2 linked regions of the Homo sapiens genome follow. The protein of the gene in region 1 purifies or fractionates together with the protein of each later gene. This does not show direct contact. Each region holds a gene or a part of one and is shown in the gene's direction. Other genes may lie near its edges. The genes, in order: ETV4 and DET1.

The links.
Region 2: the proteins of ETV4 (region 1) and DET1 purify together in Homo sapiens (affinity purification with mass spectrometry; one large-scale study listed by BioGRID and IntAct). This does not show direct contact.

What each region holds. Positions count from the first base shown.
Region 1 is NC_000017.11:43,536,243-43,540,059, reverse strand, and holds part of ETV4 (ETS translocation variant 4), read left to right. Parts: intron 1-3,285; exon of another isoform or gene 3,286-3,580; coding exon 3,581-3,634; coding exon of another isoform or gene 3,635-3,648; intron 3,649-3,817.
Region 2 is NC_000015.10:88,515,673-88,519,489, reverse strand, and holds part of DET1 (DET1 homolog), read left to right. Parts: intron 1-2,516; coding exon 2,517-2,708; intron 2,709-3,817. UniProt on the Homo sapiens protein: Component of the E3 ubiquitin ligase DCX DET1-COP1 complex, which is required for ubiquitination and subsequent degradation of target proteins. The complex is involved in JUN ubiquitination and degradation.

The sequences.
Region 1 (3,817 bases):
TCTGTTTGTTCTTGCCAGCGGATTTCATGTCTCATTGATGTCTTTGGTCACTTCAGACCAAAGTATTATTATGTTGACTTGTCCTAAGTTCTCGTTTAGCTGCTGGTGGCTTGTGATTGTTAAACTCCCTCTCCCTAATGCTTCTGTCAAGAAATCAACTATCTATTAATATAAGCCTATGTTTATAAACACTTGGCACCTCTGATATTTAAAGCAAATTGTTGAAGAATATTCTTGCCAAGCAACATATCACAACCTAAAATATCCCCTGTGAGATGTGCTTTCCTGGAGAGGACCTGCCTCTAGTGTTGCCTTGTGTGTGGAGAGGGGGAGCCTGCAGGGAAGGGCTAGGATGGTCAGGATCTCTTCAGTGCATGCCCTCAGGCCCACAGTGCTGACTTCTGCCAGCCTGAGGACAAACGATTATTGCATGTTTATTCATGTAGTCAAGAAATAACAGCACTGAGCGTCTACTCTAACCCTGTGCTGGGTGCTGGGGCATCAGATGACAAAAAAGATAAAGCTCTTGCCCTCACAGAGCTTAACTTCCTGGTGGAGGAGATAGGTAGATAACAAACAGGTAAACATAAATTAATATATTCAGGTGGCAATATGTGCCAGGGAGAAAACAAAACATAGATGCAATAGAGAGCCAGGAGGAACCACTTTGGTTTAGGGGTGGTCAGAGAAGGCCTCTCCAGAGATGTCAAAGTGAGCTGAGACTCTGATGGTCAGGAAAAAAAGAAAAAGGCAAGAAAGCATCTGGGGAAGAAGGAACAAGCTCAGCAGCTTTGAGGGCTAGAAAGGAGACCAGAGTGCTGCAGATTCACAGGCAAGGAGAGGCAGGTCAGAGAGGTAGGCAAGGCCAAGTCATGCAGAGCCTTGGAGGCCAAGGGCAAGCGTTTGGATTTCATGCTTTAAATAACAGAGAGAAATGATTTTATTTCTGTTGTAAAAAGATCACTGTGACACCTAGGTGGAGAGCAAGGGACCATAGGAGGTAAGAATGAAAATAGGGTATCCTGGTAAGAGGCCGTGGGTGAAATCCAAGTAAGAAATGATGGAGCCTTAGCCTAGAGAGAAGCAAAAGAGATGGGATATGTATTTGTATAGGCCGGGGGTGTGGAGGTTTTTTCTAGCCATCTCATACCCCTCACCAGCCATTTTGACCTCTCTGGGCATTTTATCAGTTTCCCCATTGTCCAATCTGAGAGCAGTCTCCAGGGAAGGAGAGAGCAGTCTCCAGGGAAGGAGAGTCCAGCCTCCTCGGGCTACAGGTTCCACTGCATCACCCTAGAACCACTCTCTTCCTGGAATAATATCAGGAAGTTCTTCTTGGTGTCTACATTTCCTGCTGTGATCCATTTATTTTTGAGAGAGGGGCAAAAGTGGGCCAAGACTCTGGGATCAAGGGAGATTCTTAGCTGTATAACCACCTGAGAAGCCCCGCTCTGGGGAGGCCAGAATAAGAACTAGAAATCAGAGTTTGATGTTCAGGTTAGAAGCCATGGATGAGCTGCTGCTGTATTTCAGTTTTCCTGCCTATTCCCCAACCCAGCTCCACCCATCCTGGCATCCTGGGAGAGCTCTTCGGATCACCAACCTTGGGAATCCCTCCCCTCCTTAGCTGCACATTAAGGGGATGAGGCACCTATGTACTCAGCCAGTGTCCTTTGCCTTCTGCAGTGGTCCCAGTCACCAGCCTCCTGCTCTCCCACTGTCATCCTCCTTTTTTATTTTATTTATTTATTTTTGAGATGGAGTCTTGCTCTGTCGCCAGGCTGGAGTGCAGTGGTGTGATCTCAGCTCACTGCAACCTCCACCTCCCGGGTTCAAGTTATTCTCCTGTCTCAGCCTCCGGAATAGTTGGGATTACAGGCGTGCCACCACGTCCAGCTAATTTTTTTTTTTTTTTTTTTGAAATGGAGTCTTGCTCTGTCACCCAGGCTGGAGTGCAGTGGCCTGATCTTGGCTCACTACAAGCTCCGCCTCCCAGGTTCACGCCATTCTCTTGCCTCAGGCATACTCCTGCCTCAGGATTAGCTGGGACTACAGGCACCCGCCACCACACCCGGCTAATTTTTTTTGTATTTTTAGTAGAGACAGGGTTTCACTGTGTTAGCCAGGATGGTCCTGATCTCCTGACCTGGTGATCTGCCCGCCTCAGCCTCCCAAAGTGCTGGGATTACAGGCGTGAGCCACCGCGCCCGGCCTAATTTTTGTATTTTTAGTAGAGACAGGATTTCACCATGCTGGTCAGGCTGGTCTCAAACTCCTGACCTCGTGATCCGCCCACCACGGCCTCCCAAAGTGCTGGGATTACAGGCATGAGCCACCATGCCCGGCCTTTATTTTTCATTTTTTGGAACAGAGTCTCACTTTGTCACCCAGGCTGGAGTGCAGTGGCATGATCTCAGCTGACTGCAACCTCTGCCTCCTGGGTTCAAGCAATTCTCCTGCCTCAGCCTTCCGAGTAGCTGGGATTACAGGTGCCCACCGCCACGCCTGACTAATTTTTTAATTTTTTAGTAGAGATGGGAGTTTCACTTTGTTGGCCAGGCTGGTCTCAAACTCCTGATCTCAAGTGATCCTCCCACCTCAGCCTCCCAAAGTGCTGGGATTACAGGCATGAACCACTGCGCCCAGCCACCCCCCTATGTGATTTTATTTATTATTTAATTTTATTTTTCTTTTGAGATGGAGTTTCACTCTTGTTGCCCAGGCTGGAGTGCAGTGGTGCGATCTCAGCTCACTGCAACCTCTGCCTCCCAGGTTCAAGCGATTCTTCTGTCTCAGCTCCTGAGTAGCTGGGATTATAGGCTCCCGCCAACACGACCAGCTAAGTTTTGTACTTTTAGTAAAGATGGGGTTTCGTCATGTTGGCCAGGCTGGTCTCGAACTCCGGACCTCAGGTGATCCACCCGCCTTGACTTCCCAAAGTGCTGGGATTATAGGCGTGAGCCACCATGCCTGGCCGCCTCCTATGTGATTTTTAAATCCACAGGATCCCACTGCTTATAATGCCTGCCCATCCTAGATATGACTGTTGTGAGCTTTAAGGGAGTTTTGTAAACTCTGAGGGGCGAGGCTGTTTCACTTCAGAAAAATGGAGGAAATAAAGACAAAGCATCTAGAAGAAGAAAGACTGGAATCTGCTCAGACAGGTTCTGAGAACAGTCTTCCCTCCTGGGTCTTAGTGGAGCCCAGAGGTGGAAGACACTAGGACCTAGGGTGGAGCAGCCTTTAGTCTCAAGCAAGCTTGTCCAACCCGTGGGCCTGTGGGCCACTTTCAGCCCAGGGTAGCTTTGAATGCGGCCCAGGCCCAACATAAATTCCTTGTAAAATTTCTTAAAACATTATGAGATTTGTTTGTGATTTTAAGTTCATCAGCTATCGTTAGTGTTAGTGTATTTGTGTATTTTATGTGTGGCCCAAGACAATTCTTACAATGTGGACACCCCTGATCTAAAGGCTGTTGGTCCTTTCTTGGCTGTTGCTAATCTGCAGGGCTGTAATAATGGAGCCTCCCAGGGGACAACCAGGGCTCCGCCCCAAACTCACCTCTGACTTCTCTCTGCAGCTCAGGTACCAGACAGTGATGAGCAGTTTGTTCCTGATTTCCATTCAGAAAACCGTGAGTAGAGGTCCCTGGGGAGAGGGTATAGGGAGTGGAGGATGGCAGGAAGTGAGTCATAGGATAGAGAATCACAAGAGAGCAGCTTGTTCTCTCCTAAAACACAGTGGGGTTTGATCTTAAAGACCAAGGCAATAACTGGAATGAAAACCTTGGTTGAAATCTGGGGCTTGACATGTTCTT
Region 2 (3,817 bases), on another chromosome or scaffold:
GTTGGAGAGCGTGACGGTCTACCCTGTGACTAGAGAGGGTTTGCAGTCGTTGGTAATGGTGAGGTTGAGGGTGTGACTGTGGAATAAGCAGTTGAGGTTGAGAGGAGGTCAAGGAACTAGCAGGAGGCTATGGTGCTGTAAAGAACCTTTCTGAGGATTTTGAAATTACCGAGAACTAAGAGAGGTATAGCTGGACAGAGTGACACTGGGGCAGGAACTAAAGTGTGAAGACATCGAAGAGAGTGACTGCTTTTAATCAGTGGGGAGCATGGAGAGTGGAGGTGGTAGGTGCTGTGGAGGAAGAGGAACTGTTTCAACTTGTAGATTATCACAGATGCTTTGATTTGTGGTCATCACAAAGCTGTGAGCCAGCCCCCATCATTTTACCTTTGAAAGCCAGGGAGTCGGTGAGTCAGGCAGGGCTAAGGTGTAGATGAGATGGTGCCAGGTCTTGCTGAAAACCGAAGTGCCCAGGATCTTTTATTTCAGCTCAAATGAAAGGGAAAAAATAAGCTCTATTTGGCCCAAGATTTATTTTTATGATTTATACTGAGGCTGTGAAAATTACTGTCAGTAGGAGTAATGGAAAAGCAGTGTTGCTTGCTAGGCTTTCTTTAGGGGGAGCAGAAAAGTGTTCATGTCCATCTAATACCATAGGTTAATAGTGAAAATAAAAATTACCCCCAACTAATTAATCTTTGTGGTCTCATGAAAGTTAGGAACACTGAAGTTTTTTATTCCATTTGTTTCAGGGATGAGATATTATACTTTTCTCCCAGACTAAAAAAAATTGATATCCCCTTGATTGTTGAACCATATGATATGCTTGAATATAGAGGTTTAAAAAATATATACTGATAGACAGTTGACATTCTTTCTAAGAAGCTGTAGGATAGTGAAAAATAAGGAAAAAATTCAAAATGTCATTATACAACTATTAACATTTTAATGTGTTTCTGCCAGTCTTTGCTTTAAGTGTGAGTTTTTGTTTTCTTTGTGTTTTTAGCCATATTATATAGACAGTATTGTATCCTACTTCTTTTATTTGTAAATGTGATAAACATTTCCCCTGTTACCATATAATCTTTGAAAATGGTAGTTTTCCATTAGCTTTTTAATTTTTTCTTCCTCTATAAACAATGCTGTATGAATGTACACAGAGATTTTTCTGCATGTAGGAGTGATTCCTTAGGGTAAATTTCCAGAAGAATAGAAGTACTTGTCAAAGAGTATTAAATTTAGTTTTGTGGCCAGGCACTGTGTCTCATGCCTGTAATCCCAGCACTTTGGAAGGCTGAGGTGGGTGGATCGCTTGAGGCCAGGAGTTGAAGACCAGTCTGGGCAACATGGCGAGACCCTGTCTCTACAAAAAAAAAAAAAAAAATTAGCTGGGTGTGGTGGCACGCACCTGTCGTCCTGGCTACTTGGGAAGCTGAGGTAGGAGGATTGCTTGAGCCCAGGAGAGGTGGAGGTTGCAGTAAGCTGGGGTTGTGCCACTGCCCTCCAGCCTGGGCAACACAGTGAGACCCTGTCTCAAAAAATAAAAATAAAATAAAATTTAGCATTTGTGACAGTGATGAGAAATAACTGTTCTGTTATTATTTTCAAAGATAAGTCAGATATATGACTCTATGTATGTTACTATTCTTCTAGATACTGGTGTCTCTGCAGGAATATAGGTAGCTAGTTTCCAAATTTTATTTAAACAAACAAAGAATGCGTAATTTATTTGTGAAAGGCTTGCTAGAAGTTGGTGATCCCAAGAAGAGTCAGAGGCTGCTTCTGTTCAGGGTTCTCTGTAACTCCTTCCTAATTCAGTCTAAGGCAATTATTTGGGGAAAATAAGTTCTTGACCTTTTTCCCCAGTTGAGCTGTTATTAGAAAAGAGTAGAAATAGTTGCCATAAACTAGTTATACTCATTTTAAACTTGTTTGTAGAGTCTTTGTTAACTTTTCTAAAGTAGGGCCGGGTGTGGTGGCTCATATCTGTAATCCTAGCATTTTGGGAGGCCAAGGCGGGCAGATCAGTTGAACCCAGGAGTTCAAGACCAGCCTGAGCAACATGGCAAAATCCCATCTCTATAAAAAATACAAAAATTAGCTGGGTGTGGTGGCACGTGCCTGTAGTCCCACCTACTCTGGGGGCTGAGGTGGGAGGAACACTTGAGCCTGGGAGGTCAAGGCTGCAGTGAGCTGAGATCACACCACTGTACTCCAGCCTGGGCAACAAAGCGAGACCCTGTCTCAAAAAAAAAAAAAAAAAAACCCAAAACCCAAACACATTTCTAAAGTAATTTGTTGTTTTCCATTTTTAGTTATATGTTTTGCTTTTTAAAAGTATTTGTAGCTGGCCAGACTTGTAATGTGTGAGAGACAGTTCTATCTTAATTCATTACCTAGGTTTTAATTTGTATTTAAAGAATGAGTTGTTCTTAGACATATATTTGTCAATTTAAAATTCAAGACAGCTTTGTGTACTCACTAACAAAGCCTTCCTCACCGGTCCTTTCATTTAGGTTCAAAGACACTATTATAAATGCCAAGTATGGAGGGCACACAGAGGCAGTACGCCGGCTGCTGGGTCAGCTCCCCATCAGTGCTCAGTCTTACAGCGGTAGCCCCTATCTGGATTTGTCTCTCTTCAGTTATGATGACAAGTGGGTATCTGTCATGGAGCGGCCCAAGACTTGTGGAGATCACCCAATCAGGTACAGTGTCACTGCTATAGCTACAAACTGCTCAAGGGCTGAAGATGGCCTGCTTTCTTTTTCTCTTTTTCTGGACATCATTTGATTGTGACTGTGACTCGTACTCATGGGTAAGGTTGAAAAGGCAGGCTATTTCTATAATGCAGTGAGAGCTGTGATCATTTAGGTGCTAGTCTCCTAAATTATTCCTACTCTTTGCTTCTCATCAGAACATCTAATTCAGATAAGTGTTGTCCTCTTTTAAAGGTATCCAGGGGAGGAAGCTGTACTTTCCCATTTAATAATCTAATACCATTCCATAATAGTTTTTGACATTGAGACTTTATAATTATGTATCTAACACAAATTATTTTATCCCGCCATGTTACCTCATAGAAAAAATAGCAGAGACAATTTGGGGACCTGCTGACAGATTTAGAAGAAACTCATGCTTCCTCACTTGGAGGAATTTTGGAATGTAGACTACTGTGTTATTGTTAGAAGTTTGAAACTGACGTCTTACAAGAAATTCTTTCCTCACAGAAGTCTAGTTCACAGACCCAACTGTCACTACATATATGGAGCCTGTTCTGTGTGCTGTAATAATATTAGGGGGAGGAGCTGGAATTATTGTCACTAGTGGAGTTATCTCAAGGGGGGTGTGTTCCTGAGGCTATAGGCTGGAGCTTGGAAGGTCTTTTTCACACAGAAACAGTGGTAGTTAGATCTTTATGATAGATATATTTCATCATCCAGTCTCATTGTGTATTAAATGTGCCTGTGTGACATAGTCTGTATAATTAATCACCATTTATAATATTTCCTTTGGGAAATTAGAGTCAAGTTCCAAAAACTAGTTAATATTTTTTTTATTATGGAAAGTTTTAAACGTATACAAAAAGTAGAAGAGCATAATAAACCTTCATGTACCCATCACCCACTTCAACAGTTACCAGCTCGTGGCCACTCCTGTTTCAGCTATTTCCATCACGACCCCTACTCCCTCCCCTTCCCACCACTGTCCTGGGTTATTTTAAAGGAAATCCAAGCTATCCTAGCAAAACAAGTAACACCATTACCCCATCTTTAAAAAATTAACAAAAAATCTTTAATATCTTCAAATATCTAGT